2 linked regions of the Homo sapiens genome follow. The protein of the gene in region 1 purifies or fractionates together with the protein of each later gene. This does not show direct contact. Each region holds a gene or a part of one and is shown in the gene's direction. Other genes may lie near its edges.

Region 1 (7,424 bases):
AGAGTTCTAGAACATTACTTTACAGAGCTCTGTGTGCCAGAGCCTGCCGAGTGCCTTGCTTATTTTTATCTTCTCATTTGCTTCTTACAGCAGCCTCGCAAAATATGAGGTTTTTATCCCTACTTTACTGATGAGAAAACAAATTCAAAGAGTCTAGTAACTTATCCATGGTCATGTGCCCATAAGATCCAGTGGTAAATAGAACCCTAGGTCATCTGCACTCAAAACCTGTGCCCTATAAAAGCCTCCGTAAATGTTGCTGAAAAGGTCTAGACATTTGGCTTGTTTTCTCTAGCTAATAAGTAAGCTTTTGCCCTTCGTTTCCTTTATGAGGGTTTTTCTGTAAGTACAGTGCAAAGTTGTGGTAGTCTAGTAGGTGGGGTCTTTTTCATCCCTTTCTATTGTCCCAAGGAAGAACCTATTCCAACATCATTCTAGAAACAGGTCATTTTTTTTTTCTTATAACTTAATGCCCAGCAATCCATACTCCCATCTTGCCTGGCTGGTTCTTAAATGGGAGATTGATCCCATATTGCACACCTTGAAGTTTGCAAGGGTTCTTCCTCGACATCATGTGCCAGTTAAAAGTTTCAGTTCTTGATTGTGTGCTGTTTAGGGATTTAAAAACCAAAATTGGCCAGGCACGGTGGCTCATGTCTGTAATCCCAGCACTTTGGGAGGCCGAGGTGGGCAGATCACTTGAGGTCAGGAGTTTGAGAATAGCCTGGCCAACAACTCTGTTGCTACTAAAAATACAGAAATTAGCCAGGTGTGGTGGCGTCCACCTGTAATTCCAGCTACTTGGGAGGCTGAGGCATGAGAATTGCTTGAACGCTGAAGGCGGAGGTTGCACTGAGTTGAGATTGTGCCACTGCATTCCAGCCTGGGTGACGGAGTGAGACTCTGTCTCAAAAAACAGAACAAACAAACAAAAACACCACAGAATTAGCTGGATGCCGTGGCTCACACCTGTAATCTCATCACTTTGGGAGGCTGAGGCGGGTGGATCACCTGAGGCTGGGAGTTCAAGACCAGCCTGACCAACATGGAGAAACCCCGTCTACTAAAAAAATACAAAAGTAGACGGGCATGGTGGTGCACGCCTGTAATCCCAGCTACTCAGGAAACTGAGGCGTGAGAATCGCTTGAACCCGGGAGGCAGAGGTTGTGGTGAGCCAAGATTACACTCCAGCCTGGACAACAAGAGTGAAACTCTGTCCTCCCCACCACCCCCGCAAAAAAAAAAAAAAAACAAAACCAGAATTATTGTCTTTTTAATTATTTTTTTTTCTTTTTTTTTTTCCATTTTTACTTGCCCTCTGTCATTAAGGAAAACAGAGTTAAATGACTAAAGAATCCTACTTGTCTGATAACACTTAGCATCCTTTTAGGGGCGCTTGCAGTTGGATCATATGGAAGGAGCTAGATAAAAGGCATGATGAGGGGAAAATGCAAAGGGTTTTCATAGAATAAGGAGGGATCACTTTGGAATGGTGGGAGATACAGGTAGAGCCAGATTATGGAGGCCGTGGATCCAGAAGGCCAATTGACATCAGTCTAGCAAATAAAACCTTTAGTAACTCCTTTAGGAAAAGAGTGACAAATCAAAGTGCTATAGTATTTAATGCTTGAGTGTTAAATATTTAACATCCTGAGTATGTTTTGTAGGCAAAGAGGAGAGTTACTTGAAGTGAACTTTGGTTTTTTTGAGACAGGGTCTGGAATGTAGTGGCACAATCTTGGCTCACTGCAGCCTCAACCTCCTGGGCTCAAGCAGTCCTACCACCTCAGGCCCTCTCCTCCACCCCAGTAGCTGGGACTACATAAGATTACTACATAAGACTACCATAGATTCTGTCACCACGCCCAGCTAATTTTTGTATTTTTAGTAGAGATGGGGTTTCACCACGTCGCCCAGGCTGGTCTTGAACTCCTGGACTCAAGGGATCCACCTGCCTCGCCTTCCCAAGGTGCTGGGATAATAGGCATGAGCCACCACGCCCAGCTATAATTTTTTATTTTTTATTTATTTATTTATTTTGAGACGGAGTCTCGCTCTGTCACCAGGCTGGAGTGCAGCGGCACGATCTTGGCTCACTGCAACCTCCATCTCCCAGGTTCAAGCGATTCTCCTTCCTCAGCCTCGTGAGTAGCTGGGATTACAGGCATGCACCACCACACCCAGCTAATTTTTGTATTTTTAGTAGAGATGGGGTTTCACCATGTTGGCCAGGCTGGTCTCAAACTCCTGGGCTCAGGCAATTCGCCTGGCTCGGCTTCCTAAAGTGCTGAAATTACAGGTGTGAGCCACTGTGCCCAGCCGAAGTCAACATTTTAAAAGAAACAAGAGTGTAGTGACTTCGCTTGAATTCAGTCTGTATCTGTGGTGGCATGATTGCCACTGAGTTGGCCACCTCTGCAGAAGTCTGAAGTGTTCAACATAAAACTAATCCATTTTGACTCCTCTACCACAAATTGTTTGTTTCATTTATTTGAGCTATTTTAAATTGGAAACTGGTGTCATTAATGTTTAAGAAAGAAAGGAGAAACTGAGTAGAGTACTATCTCTTGACCTAATTTCTTTGTGAGCATATTATATACTCACCTAAGTATCAAGTGGAAGAGGAAGTTGATCCCTGGAGGGAAATTTCCATAGGTTAAAAGCATGGGATTTACAGTCAGATGAATTTGGGTTCAAATCCCAGCTCTCACTTTATCCATGTAGCACTCACTAGCTGTGTGACTTGGGCAACGTAAATTGCCTCAGTTTCCAGACTGTAAAATGGTAATAATATCTAGTTTAAGGCTGTTCTGAGATTCAGTTGAGATAATGTTTAGAAGATGCTTTGAACAATGTAGCTAATATTAAATGGTACAGACATAGTAAGTATTCTTGATCACTGCAGATTCAGTGGAATTAAATTTTCATATTTTGATGAAAGGGAAAATAACCAGTATTCAGTTTGCAAATTTAAATGTGTTGTTTCTTTTTAAAAACATTGAATCTGTGGTTGGGTTATTTCTGTCAATTTATTTGCCTTCCTTGCCAAGTCACACTTTGCCTAATTGATGTCCTGTGTGTTTTCCATTCCGTTCATGCTGAATTATCTTAGGTCAAAGAGGAAATCATCTTTCTGCCTCCAACCTTCTTACTTGCCTCTAATCCCCTTTCTTGACTCTTCCAAGTCAGGATTCTCACCAAGGAAGCTATCTGCCTTCTTTGGGAATGTTGGGCTTATGAAGACTTGAGATAATGGGGTTCATGTATTCAGACTCTTTAGCATATACAGTAGAGTTTCTAATGTTGTCAGCATTCCCTAGTGGGCGGTTACAAGTTAGGTTGGGATTCTAATCATATTTTATGATATCTCACAGATTAAATTGCACTTTGTCTCTGCCCAGTCTTGATTCCCTTTTGGCCAGCAGTTTTTAGGTCTGTCAGTACTGCACTGCAAGAATGGCAGATTTTGGGATCTCTGCTGGCCAGTTTGTGGCAGTGGTCTGGGATAAGTCATCCCCAGTGGAGGCTCTGAAAGGTCTGGTGGATAAGCTTCAAGCGTTAACCGGCAATGAGGGCCGCGTGTCTGTGGAAAACATCAAGCAGCTGTTGCAATGTAAGTACCCACCCACGTTGTCTTTATGAGGCTGGAGGGGTTTCCATGGGAGTGTTGCATTTCTGTGGTTCCTTGATATCTGAGTTTTCATTTAGGGTGGCATGTGATAGTGGTGGCTGGTCACCCTGTTGTTTTTCAGTTGAGATATATCGGAGGAACCACCCCCAATAATTCAACGTAGGTTCTTTTCTATTTTCCCTAAGTGTCGGCTGGTCTGAGAAATAAAGGGAAAGAGTACAAAAGAGAGAAATTTTAAAGCTGGGTGTCCGGGGGAGACATCACATGTCGGCGGGTTCCGTGATGCCCCTCAAGCCGCAAAACCAGCAAGTTTTTATTAGTGATTTTCAAAGGGGAGGGAGTGTACGAATAGGGTGTGGGTCACAGAGATCACATGCTTCACAAGGCAATAAAATAAGGCAAACGGGGGCAGAGCGAGATCACAGGACTGGGGCGAAATTAAAATTGCTAATAAAGTTTCGGGCACGCATTGTCATAGATAACATCTTATCAGGAGACAGGGTTTGAAAGCAGACAGCTGGTCTGACTAAAATTTACTGGGTGGGAATTTCCTCGTCCTAACAGGCCTGGGAGTGCTACGGGAGACCAGGGCTTATTTCATCCCTTATCTGCAACCATATAAGACAGACATCCCAGAGTGGCCATTTTAGAGACCTCCCCCTAGGAACGCATTCTCTTTCTCAGGGCTGTTCCTTGCTGAGAAAAAGAATTCAGTGATATTTCTCCTATTCACTTTTGTAAGAAGAGAAATATGGCTCTGTTCCGCCTGGCTCTCAGGCAGTCAGACCTGATGGTTATCTCCCTTGTTCCCTGAACATCGCTGTTATCCTGTTCTTTTTTCAAGGTGCGCAGATGTCGTATTGTTTAAATGCACATGCTTTATGAACAATTTGTGCAGTTAACGCAATCATCACAGGGTTCTGAGGCAACATACATCCTCAGCTTATGAAGATGACGGGATTAAGAGATTAAAGTAAAGACAGGCATAGGAAATCACAAGAGTATTGACTGAGGAAGTGATAAATGTCCATGAAATCTTCACAATTTATATTCAGAGATTGCAGTAAAGACAGGCGTAAGAAATTATAAAAGTATTAATTTGGGGAACTAATAAATGTTCATGAAATCTTCACAATTTGTGTACTTTTGCCATGGCTTCAGCCGGTCCCTCCGTTTGGGGTCCCTCACTTCCTGCAGCAGAGCTTAGGAGTGTAGTTGATGATTTCCATAAGTATGTTCTTTCTTGGTAGCTATTCCATGTTTTTTTAAAACACTTACTATTCATCCAGCTTCTTGGATGGATATCGAGTGGTGTCCATTCTCTCAGGGTGAGGTCTGTAGCTTTTGTTGGGGGTTGGAAGGGACCAGGAGATTATCCCAGGCTCAGGAGATTGCTAATTAGAGTCCTCTTCTTTTCAGCTGCCCACAAAGAATCCAGCTTTGACATTATTTTGTCAGGTTTAGTCCCAGGAAGCACCACTCTGCACAGTGCTGAGATTTTGGCTGAAATCGCCCGGATCCTTCGGCCTGGTGGATGTCTTTTTCTGAAGGAGCCAGTAGAGACAGCTGTAGGTAAGGAGATCTTCACTTGGAAAACATGTTTGACAGGGTTGAGTCTTAGAGTATGTGTGCTGCATCTCCGTGAGCAGGAGGTATCATTGGGAGATCAGTATTCCTGTAGCAAAACCTTTTCCTTGGGGATAAATTATTGTTAAAATCTGAAGCAACATATCTGGAGAAATTGTAATCTTTGGCTGACTCATTATGTAATAAAATAGAAGGAAACTGCCATCTAAAAATGGGTCCTTTTGCAGGTGAATAAACTTTGATATGTTCATAATATGGAAAGTGATGCAGCAATAAAAATGAACTAGCTAACTATATGTACATCAGCTTGGATGGATATCAAGGGAAGTAGCTGAGTGAAAAAAGCCAATCTCAAAAGGCTCTGTACTGTACAAATCCATTCATATGCTCGAAATAACAAAATTGTGGCGGTGGAGATCAGAGTTTGCCAGAGGTTAGAAGTGGGAGGAAAGGGTTGGTGGAGCTATAAAGGGGTAGTATGAGGGTTCCTGTGGTGATAGAACAATTCTGTGTTCTGAATGTCGTGGTGGTTACACAAATCTACACATATAATAAAATTACATAGAACTATATAGCCCCCTTCTGCCAAACGAGTACATATAAAAGAAATGAAATCTGAAAAAGTTATGTGGACCATCAATATCAATTTCCCGGTCTTCATATCATGCTATAATTGGGTAAGATGTTAACTGTGGGGAGGGACGAAGTGAAGACCTCCTTAATATACAGAACTTTTTTTTGTTTTTTCCAACTTCCTGTGAATCTATAGTTATTTCAAAATTAAAAGTTTAAAAATAGTGGCCGAACCCTGGGAATGATGTGGTAATTATTGATTCATGTGAAACTAATGACAGTGTTCATGAAGTAAAAACTTTTTTGATCGGTGGTATAGCTGTCAGAGTGATTCAAGTCTGGATTTTTAATATTTTTCACTAGACTTTCAGTCAAAACATAACCATTTCATCAAATAGAATAATAGAAATGAAAGTATTTTGAAATGTATAAAGGTGTTCATTGTTTATTTGGAAATAGAACTTTGTGTTATGTGTAGTATAAATCAGCATTCTTTGCTGGGAATTTAAACCTTACATGACTAAATGTAGTGTCTTAGAACTATACAGAGATAAAAAAGGAACTATTCAGAAGGAATACTTGTGTTTCTGTGCACTTTGCAGTTCATAAGCCTCTTTTCATAGTCATTATCTCACAACCTCTGGAAGGGGTTTCAAGAAGCAGAGAGTGATAAAAAAACAATAATAATGGAATTATAACATTTAAGAGCTTAGGTAAAAACACTTCGAACAACAAAAAGGATTTGTCAAATTAAAATAGTATCGCTATGGCCAGGCACAGTGGCTCACACCTGTAATCCCGGCAGTTTGAGAGGCTGGGGCAGGCAGGTTGCTTGAGTCCAGGAGTTCGAGACCAGCCTGGGCAACATGGCGAAACCCCGTCTCTACAAAAAATACAAAAATTAGCCCAGTGTGGTAGTGCACACCTATAACCCCAGCTACTTGGTGGGGGCTGAGGCAGGAAGATTGCTTGAACCTGGGAGGTCGAGGCTGCAATGAGCTGAGATCATGCCACCGCACTCCAGCCTGGGTGACAAAGTGAGACCCTGTCTCAAAAATAATAATAATAATAATAATAATAAAATAATATCACTAAAATATATATACAATTGTCCTCATCTTACAATGGAGTTACATCCTGATAAATACTATTAAGATGAAAATGCATGTAATTCATCTAACCTACTAAACACAATTGCTTAGGTTAGCCTAGCCTACCTTAAACACGCTTAGGACACTTGCGTTAGCCTACAGTTGGGCAGAATCATCTAACACAAAGCCTGTTTATAATAAAGTGCTTAGTATCTCATGTAATTTACTGAAAACTGAAGTATACAGTTTCTACTGAATGAGTATTACTTTCATACTATCATAAAAGTTGAAAAATTATAGGTAGAACCATCATTAAGTCAAGGACCATCTGTACATTAAACAGAATAGGTTATTATTTTTTTTTTGTTTTTTCTTTGAGATCAAGTCTCACTCTGTTGTGCAGGCAAGAGTGCAGTGGTGCAATCTCGGCTCACTGCAACCTCCGCCTCCCAGGTTCAAGCGATTCTCGTGCCTTAGCTTCCCAAGTAGGTGGGATTACAGGCGTGTGCCACCACGCCTGGCTATTTTTTTTGTGTGTATT
Region 2 (9,973 bases), on another chromosome or scaffold:
AAGGAAATAATTCAGAAGGAAAGGAAATTATACTTAGAAGAAGTATATAAATTGAAAGTAGAAATAACCTATTCAGTAATTTGAGAGTGGTTAAACAAATTATGGTAAAGTGGATTAGTTTGGGATAATATTCTGTCACTATTAAATGTGAGAAATTTGTGCCATTATTTAGAAAATGGGAAGTATAAAATAGGTAATACATGATTTTATACATACTAACTGTAAATATATGTATAAACTTTACTTACATTTGGATGAAATCTGGAAAGGGCCATAAAAATCAAAAGAGTTGGTCTGTTAAGTAAGAAGAGGGTACAATTTTAGGGTTTTTAGCCCTTGGTTTTAAAGTTATTTTAGTAAAATACTTATTCTGAAGTAGGCCATTGGGAGCGTTTCCTTAGTGGATGTTTTGCACAGAATATCTTCTAGGAAATTGAGAGGGCAGTGGTTATAGTAGTGTATTTGCTTGACTATATCTTTAAAATACAGAGAAATGCGGAAGCCTCTGGTTGAAAATATAAAATACTGCAGATAATAAAATGATTTGAAAAACATTGAAAATTACCTGGCTTGGTGAGGTGATAGTGATAAGTGAGTGCTGATGTTAAATGTGAGCCTATACTGATTTCTTTTTAGCCCCTCAGTTAAGTTTTAATATGTGGGTTAACAGGGCTAAACATAGGCATGGGTATTATTTTCCAAAGGACCTAAGATTGTCATCTGCCTCCATGTACATGATGACTTAGAAGACATCAGGGGTTTAAGGGGCACTATGGGAGAGGTGGTGTTTTTTGTTTGTTTGTTTTGAGATGGAGTTTCGCTCTTGTTGCCCAGGCTGGAGTGCAATGGCGTGATCTCGGCTCACTGCAACCTCTGCCTCCCAGGTTCAAGCGATTCTCTTGCCTCAGCCTCCTGAGTAGCTGGGATTACAGGCATGTGCCACCACGCCTGGCTAATTTTGTGTTTTTAGTAGAGACAGGGTTTCTCCATGTTGGTCAGGCTGATCTCGAACTCCCAACCTCAGGTGATCCGCCCACTTCAGCCTCCCAAAGTGCTGGGATTACAGGTGTGAGCGACTGCGCGCGGCCTGAGGTGGTGTTTTTAAATTTATTTTTATTTCTGCTTTTTGAGAAGTGGGGTTTTGACTCACTGGTGTAATTAAATGAAATGGCATTGCCAAAGTAGTACTGCCACACTAATTACTTAATACATTTTCTAATACGTGCTATGAAAATGTTTGCTACCGAGGAAAATATTTCTAAAACTTCATTTTAGGGCCTGTTCAACTTTGTTGTGAAAATGGTATATTTAGGACTTTTAGGATTTGTATCTAGAATTTCAGGATTGTTGGAAAACATAATTTCTTTCTTTGTAACAGACTGACTTACTTAAATTTATAGGTACTTGAGACCAGAAACTGCACAGGGGATTTTCTTGAATTTCAAACGACTTTTGGAGTTCAACCAAGGAAAGTTGCCTTTTGCTGCTGCCCAGATTGGAAATTCTTTTAGAAATGAGATCTCCCCTCGATCTGGACTGATCAGAGTCAGGTACTGCTCAGGTTACTCTTACAAATTAGTGAATGACCTTGGCATTGCATTGAAAATGAAAGCTTGCTGTTTTGAAGCAATTCTGCTTCATAATCCTGATTATGAATTTATTTTTGTTTTCTCCAAAAATCATGTTTTACATTTGGAATCTCTAAATGTAATCTCCAGGATGACAGGCAGTTTTGAGTGACAAAAGTGAACTTGAAGGGAAAGGAAGGAGGGTGGAGACTGTCTTAAGAGTCTCACCTGCTCCAAAATTACCTTTTTCCTTGTTCATCGTATATTTTGAGGATGGTAATATCTTGATTGTCTAAACCAAGGCAATACTGGCAATGGTGATGTGTATAAAAGGGTGGGGTCGGGTGGGGGTAGGGTGAAAGTTGTGGCAGGAGGATTGTTCTAGATATCTAGGGCAGACAACATTGCTGAAGTTGGGGTGAGGATGTATCAGTAACCAACTGGAGTTCTGGAAACAACCTCCGTCCAGGTATTTGGGGGGCCTATATGACAGAAAGGCCAGCAAGCAAGCTTACCCTCATCACTCACTTGGCCTCTATTCAAATAGCCTACTTTTGTCTGATCTATCCAGGGATGTGTGGGAAGGCATATTGGGGCTGGTGAGTTCTATATTTCTTTAGAAATTTATTATGACTCAGCTGTTTATGACTTAAGTTTTTTGTGATTTCTATACGTTATTCCTGGTATCATCTCTTAGAGTAATACATTCCATATAAAATACGAGGTGTAGCTAAACATAACTTTCTAAGGCCCCAAAGTGTTTTCCCAGCCCCAGCGCCCACCCATTTCCTGTCTTCTCTTCTTACTCACTGTAATTACAGACTTGGGTCATAACATAGCCCAGTCACTGACTCTGGATCAAAGCATCCACAGCACCTGCCTCATCTTGTTAGTTCCCATGATGCCATCTGGGAGAAGATGCCTATGTTCTGCGCAAACTGTATCTCTAGGCCCTACAGGTTTACGGTTTAGGAAGGAGGGACTTACAGAGGAAAGAATGTGCCCAACTTAGAGAAAGTTGGGGGAATGACCCCTCTGAGCTTTCATGTAAAAAGAGGAGGTCATCAGAAACTTTAGCCAGGTATGATGGCAATGACAAATTTGTCAGATTTGAGTCTTTGTTTTATTTCCCAGTGTCTGAGTGTTTTTGTTTTTTTGTTTTTCACCGTTTCAATATCTAGCAAGTATGCCTTCCCAAACTGAGGAAGCTGCGTAAGGCTGACCTTGTCTGAAGCCAGTGTTACGAAGAGGGTTTACACAGAGTAGCTATGGGAAGATTATTGAGAAGGACTGAGAAGTAAGGCAGTGTCTGGGGCCTGTGCAGTAAAAAAGTGGTGAGTAGGGAAACCAGCTTGGAACTTGGGAGTGATCCCAGGGGTTAACTGGTAGAAAGGCTCTGGGGCTTCTCAACAGTGGATTCTTTGGTCATTTTCACTTCAAAGTGTCATGTCTGAATTCTGGCTAGTTTTGTTATGTCCCTTGCAAGTTCCTGACCAGAAGTCCACTAGTTTTTTCATGAGTCAGCATCCTCCTGGCTTTTGTTCCATGGTAGGACTAGGATTGGTTTATTTAGTGTTCTGATTCTTCTTGATGGCAGAGTTCTCTGGTGATTAATCTTTGCATAGCTGTATTTCCTTTTGTCCTTTTGTTAGTTTAGAGGTATTAGATTGTTCATATGAAGATTTTTCTAAAATTTTATTTTATTTTGATTGACTTATCTGTCTTCCTAGCCTGTGTGTATTTTAGTTCTCTACAGTTTCAGGTACAGTTGCTGAACTGAGATACAGTTACTCAGAATTCTGATGATTCCTGCCTCCTATCTATGAGCTGAGATTATTGATGAGTAAATTTTGTATGATTTGTATGATTTCAAGTCACACAGTGTGGTGCTTTGATATGCTTATACATTGTGAAATGATTACCACAGTCAAGCTAATTAACATAATTATCACCTCACATAGTTACTTTTTTTTTTTTTAGTGGTGAGATCTACTTAACATCTACTCTTTGAGCGGATTTCAGGTATACAGTGAATCATTAACTATAGACACAGTGCTGAGATTTGTGACAGAACAGATGGAAAGACTTTGGCAGCAGCATTTTGGAGATTCTAGGCAGGGCCCGTAATTTATCCTGTCCCACATTGTAGATGTTCAGTTGCTGTCAGCCCAATTATAAGCTATGTGAGGACAAACACCATGTTTGTTTCTCTCACATTTATATGGGCACAGAAGATGTTTCCTAGTTGTTGAAAGACAACTAAAACATAGGTGCAGCAGGACCAAATAAGAGACACTATTAAAAAATAAAATTTAAAAATTAAACCTCTTGGCCGGGCGCAGTGGCTCACGCCTGTAATCCCAGCACTTTGGGAGGCAGAGGCGGGCGGATCATGAGGTTCAGGAGATTGAGGCCATCCTGGCTAACACAGTGAAACCCTGCCTCTACTAAAAATACAAAAAATTAGCCGGGCGTGGTGGCGGGCGCCTGTAGTCCCAGCTACTCGGGAGGCTGAGGCAGGAGAATGGCGTGAACCCGGGAGGCGGAGCTTGCAGTGAGCCGAGATCGCGCCACTGCACTCCAGCCTGGGCGAGCGAGACTCCGTCTCAAAAAAAAAAAAAAAAAAATTAAACCTCTTTTGCAGTGTATTTCATGTATTTTTAGGATCCATTTAAGCAATTTTACATTACTCGTAAAACATCTGAGATAATCATGGAAGCACACCAGAAAATGTGATTTTTCTTGAAAGAAGAGAGATTGATTTTGACTCATAAAATTAACTTGAAACACTTCTCCCGCAAATAGCTACTAAATTGCATTCAGAGAAATCTCTTTGGGAAACCATTACTATGTGCACTTCATCGTTAGGTAATTAGCTTGATGTTAGCTTGTTCAATTCATGCCTTATATCCTTTGCCTTGAATAACACTTTATTTAAGAAGCTCTTGCTCCAAAGAAACCAACTGTATGATGCCATTATCAGTCATTTACTTTTTTGTAGCAGTAAAAAAGAAGAAATCAAACTGCTATGAAAGCTAAAGAACCATTTCATTTCGCTTTTAATTTCCCATTCTTTGAAATGGGATGAAGAAACTTCATTTAGTGTATACTTATAAAGACTTGCTAATGCTTTAAGGAAAACCATTTTATCTGCATGTCACTATTCAATATCTTATTTCTTATTTTTCATGTGATTTTTGCGTATGTTTTCCTAATTTAAAAAACTATATTAATCTGCCTTTAACAAGTTATTTTCAGTTAAAAGTAATAATCTTTTTGGATGTAGCTGGAGGGAAGGAATTAATACTTCAGAGAAGTTAGATCATGTTTATTTTAAATAGTGAGTAATAAAATTTTCATTAATGTGTTTAAAAATAACCTTCACATGTACCCCATAAATTTGTACAAATATAATACATCAAAAAAATAAAAATAACAACTACCCAGACAAATTTAATTCAAAATTTTTTTGGCCATTCCCTTAGGAAACCAACTTTCTGTTTAGTGAAAAAGACCACTATAGTATGGAGCCTTTATCACTAGAATGCAGTTGAAAATAGAGGCCTTGTTTTTTGTTTGTTTGTTTTTTGTAGTTAAATATGCAGGTTTATCGCTTACGTTTTTGCTTTCAGAGAATTCACAATGGCAGAAATTGAGCACTTTGTAGATCCCAGTGAGAAAGACCACCCCAAGTTCCAGAATGTGGCAGACCTTCACCTTTATTTGTATTCAGCAAAAGCCCAGGTCAGCGGACAGTCCGCTCGGAAAATGCGCCTGGGAGATGCTGTTGAACAGGTAGGATTCTGGAGGTAACTTAACTTAGATTGTGCCTGTTCAGGGTTTGCAGCAATTAGCAAATTCTATGTGTTCTGGGTGACAAGATATTTTATTTTGGCAGTCATTTGCTTTTTTACAGTACTTGGTTTTGTACAGAATTTGTTATACAGTATTATTATAGTAAGAGAAAAATCACCTGAACATCTCAATTTGTGGGCCTTGGGGCTAGCATGAAAAAAAATGTTTAGCAGAGCACTTGGAAAATAGATCTTGGTTTGCATTGTGCCTCACCAATCTGACTCAACAGTATGTACTACTTTGGGGGAGACAGCATTGGACCCACAGAAAGCAAGCCATCTGGGTTTCAGACTCTTCTGTATTACCCATAGCAGTGGAATAAGGCCTTGCATATAAGCACTTTGTAAATATTTGCCTGGAGAAGTGAGTGCGTGAAAACTTGCCAACAGTAGCTGCTGTCCACTAGTGGAATGAGTTGCCTCAGGGAGCAGTGAGCTTCCTGGCCCTGAAAATACTCCTGGCAAGGTTGGACGATAGCTTGTCAGCCACTTTGCAGAGAAGACCTCTGCAGTGTATGGAGATGGGGCTAGATGTTTTCTAAGGTCCTTGCAAACACTAAAATGATTACGTGTACTCTACGGGGTTCACAAATTTCAGTGGGTAAGGATACATTAAAATCCCCTCAACGTGTCATTACTTTGGTTAATTCAGAGGGGAATGTCTTTGCCATTCTTTAGTGTCAATTATGAATATTGTTTTTAGTACTGTAGATTTAGAGGTATGAGGTACTGGGCTGAATTTTTGCTGACCCAGTAAGTATGTTGGACAGATTTTGAATAACTCCATTATCATCATCTTGACATTAACCCATTAAAAAATAACCAAGATCTCATTCTGAGTATTTGAAATTGTTTTGAAAGCAAGATAAAATAGTTTGTGTTGGGTGTCAAATATTTTTCAGTAGAGTGAGTCAATGGAAACCGATATCTTGGCTTTGAAGAGTATTAATGTGTGTTTTCTTTTCTTCCTCCATGCTTGCTTATTGGTTGGTTTAGGGTGTGATTAATAACACAGTATTAGGCTATTTCATTGGCCGCATCTACCTCTACCTCACGAAGGTTGGAATATCTCCAGATAAACTCCGCTTCCGGCAGCACATGGAGAATGAGATGGCCCATTATGCCTGTGACTGTTGGGATGCAGAATCCAAAACATCCTACGTAAGTGGAGTGCTGTTTACCATGTGATTTTCACATTGTTAACTTAGAAGCACAGGTACCAAATGAATTTTTGTGCACTTTATGTCACAGAGGAACAAAGGGAAAAGAAAAGAGATCTTTTCCTGAGCAAAACAGAAAAAGCAGTTGCCTCCTGCCTTTTTATAAGTGTCCTAAGGAGCTCGTTGTAGTCTTAGATAGCTGAGAGACAGAGTTAGTGTATGATGGGACAGTGCGGATGTGTACACTGCTGTACAGTGTATTGGCAGCATTACTGGCAATATCCTGGAGTGGATCTAAGACACATTGGCCTCTCCTTCCTGGCAAGAGTCCCAGCAAACATTGGAAATGGTGGAGAGGTTGAATAAAGAAAGTCATAGTGCTCTTAGCTCAATGAGCTATGTAGTAGCTTTGGGGAATATACTAGTTGATTCTGATCTCTGGCTTAAGAACTACCTTCCTCAAATGTTATGTATTTAACTCAAAATTCACAGACGATCTCCAGGTACCCTCCTGCCCCTGTGCCCTGTCACCCCTCCAGCCTCCACCACCAAACATGAACATCAGTATTGAAGCGGAGGGACGAAAGGCATTTGCATATAGGAGATGCTGTCTATATTGGTGGCAGGAGGAAATGTGGCATCTAAAACAAGGCTGAGAGTCTTTTGGCATTTCTCTTATTGGGTGTTAGAGAGGCTTCCTCGCCTACATAGAAAGAGACTTTAGTCCAGGGGTCACTGGTTCCAGTATACCCTTGGTTCAGTTTTTACTTTTCAGAATGGCTTTCTTTTTATGGATTTTTAAAAATTAAAAATCAAAATTAGTCATATTTTAAAAAGTAATGACTACTTTTTTTAAAACAAAAAGGAAAAAATAATTCTGAAGACTATTATGTAGAAAATTAAACTTCCAGTTATATGCCTCTCCCCAGGTGTTTTATGTCTCTTCTCTGTATTGAGCAAACATTTTCTATAAAGGACCAGATGGTAAATATTTTTAGCTTTATGAGTCTCTGTCACATAACTTTGTTGTTTTTTACAGCTTGTAAAAAACAGCTTTTAAAAAATGTCCAAACTGGCTGGGTGTGGTGGCTCATGCTTGTAATCCTAGCACTTTGGGAGGCCGAGGTGGGAAGATTGCTTGAGCTCAGAAATTTGAGACCAGCCTGGGCAACATAGCAAGACCCTGTCTCTACAAAAAATACAAAAATTAGCCAGGTGTGATAGCACGCCCCTGTAGTTTCAGCTACTTGGGAGGCTGAGGTGGGAAGATCACATGAGCCCGGGAGGTTGAGGCTGTAGTGAGCCATGATTGCACCACTGAACTCAAGCCTGGGTGACAGAGTGAGGCCCTGTCTCAAACAAACAGACGAAAAAAGATCATGCTTAGCTCCATGGTCTTGGGTATGTCTGCCTTCTCTAGATGATTTTTCTACGTGTTCTAACACATGCATGCATAAATGCATAATAATATGCATATGTTTATAAATGGCTATTAATGATGTTGTTTTTAATATATTCTTTTTCCCTTGTGGAATTAGAAAGAATTACTGTAATCTGTTAGGATTTTCTTAGCAAGCTTGCTTGACATATGTCAAAATGATAATAGTAATTATTTTTAGGATTATGGGTGATCATTAATTTCTTTACACTTTTTAGATTTTCTGGGACTTCTTTTTATTTTCAGATCAAACCAATAAAATGTTTTTCCTTTTGTATGAGAAAAGATTATTACTTTTCTTTTTGTTTCATACCCAGCTCCTTCTCTTAGTTTGCTCTGATTCTGATTTCAGATTAAACCAGATGTTGTTCTTGCTGTCTCAGTTAAGTAATTTGCTTAAGTCTCACAGCCAGTGAGTGGTGAGGCTGGGATATAAACCTGGCTGTCTGACACCAGACTCATGCTCTTAACAGTTATGCTGTACTGCTTTATAAACCCCACTGGATGCCTGCTCGTCCTTATCTAAGTGCCATTGTGAGGGTTAGGGATCAGAAAATGGAAAGTCACTGGAAAACAGGGCTAAATGAAACAAGAAGCTCCAGAGTCCCAGAGGCTCTTAAGGAGAGGGGAGAACTCCCTTAGAGAGTTTAATACTTTTTGTGTACTTTATATATTTTTTTAATAAAAAAATTTACCGTTGCAGTTAATGCCACACCAATTCTCTTTCCATCCAGAGAAGTAACCACTATCCCAATGTTGTTATTCTCAGGCACGTTTTTGTAATTTTACCTTTCAGTACATAAATGTTAGTTGACATCTGCAGTAAATTATAACCACCAAACTATATGGTTAAGAACATAAGTATACTTAACCAGTCGACATGTATAGGGAATGTCAGATTGCCAGGTTACATGTTTTTAGGCTTTGTTCTTTAATTCCTTTTGTTGTTGTTTTGTGTTGGAGTTTCTGAGCTCATATGAGTTTTATATTTGCTTGCTTTATTACAGACACCCCATGTGATAACATGTGCTTGGAAAGCTTAGTAGTTTTTTCTTTTTTTCTTTTTTTTTTTTTTTTTTTGAGACAGAGTCTTACTCTGTCACCCAGGCTGGAGTGCAGTGGTGCACTCTCAGCTCACTGCAGCCTCTGCCTCCTGGGTTCAAGCGATTCTCCTGCCTCGGCCTCCCAAATAGCTGGGATTACAGATACATGGCACTGCACCCAGCTAATTTTTGTATTTTCATGAAGACAGGATTTCTCCGTGTTAGCCAGGCTGGTCTTGAACTTCTGACCTCAGGTGATCCACCCGCCTTAGCCTCCCAAAGTGCTGGGATTAGAGACACGAACCACTGTGTCTGGCCAAGCTTAGTAGTTTTGATGGTTGAATTTCCCCAAACTCTTTGGATCAAGGGCAAAAAAAAAAAATGAATCTTCTTGAGAAGGACTAACTAGGTATCTACCAAAATAAGCTCTTTACAAACTCTTGTTCTTATTGAAATAACGGGTTCTTAAGAGTTTGTCATAGTTGGGGTTTCTATAAGAAAGCACCACATACAGAGTGGCTTATAAACAATGGACATTGATTTCTCACCGTTCTGGAGGCTGGAATTGAGAGATCAGGGTGCCAGCATCGTCTGATCCTTGTGAGGGCCCCATTCTCAGTCGCATACTGCCAACTTCTTGTTGTATCCTCACATGGTGAAAGAGGGCAAGAGAGCTCTCTGGGGTCCCAAATTCCAGTGATTAGGGCTCCATCCTCATGACCTAATCACCTCCCAAAGGCACCTCCTCCTAATACCATCACATTGGGAGTTAGGATTTCAATATACGAATTTTGTCAAGGACACAAGCATTCAATTCATTGCAGGTTCTTTGAAAATAATTTAAATTTTGCTTTTTAAAAGTATCTTATGTGTGTATTTATAAGAAAGGGAACCTGGCATCAATGTGATC

The links.
Region 2: the proteins of CIAPIN1 (region 1) and GARS1 fractionate together in Homo sapiens (co-fractionation; 2 studies listed by BioGRID). This does not show direct contact.

What each region holds. Positions count from the first base shown.
Region 1 is NC_000016.10:57,436,962-57,444,385, reverse strand, and holds part of CIAPIN1 (anamorsin), read left to right. Parts: intron 1-3,402; 5' UTR 3,403-3,457; coding exon 3,458-3,614; intron 3,615-5,051; coding exon 5,052-5,204; intron 5,205-7,424. UniProt on the Homo sapiens protein: Component of the cytosolic iron-sulfur (Fe-S) protein assembly (CIA) machinery required for the maturation of extramitochondrial Fe-S proteins.
Region 2 is NC_000007.14:30,610,696-30,620,668, forward strand, and holds part of GARS1 (glycine--tRNA ligase isoform 1 precursor), read left to right. Parts: intron 1-1,400; coding exon 1,401-1,550; intron 1,551-5,200; coding exon 5,201-5,363; intron 5,364-6,418; coding exon 6,419-6,583; intron 6,584-9,973. UniProt on the Homo sapiens protein: Catalyzes the ATP-dependent ligation of glycine to the 3'-end of its cognate tRNA, via the formation of an aminoacyl-adenylate intermediate (Gly-AMP).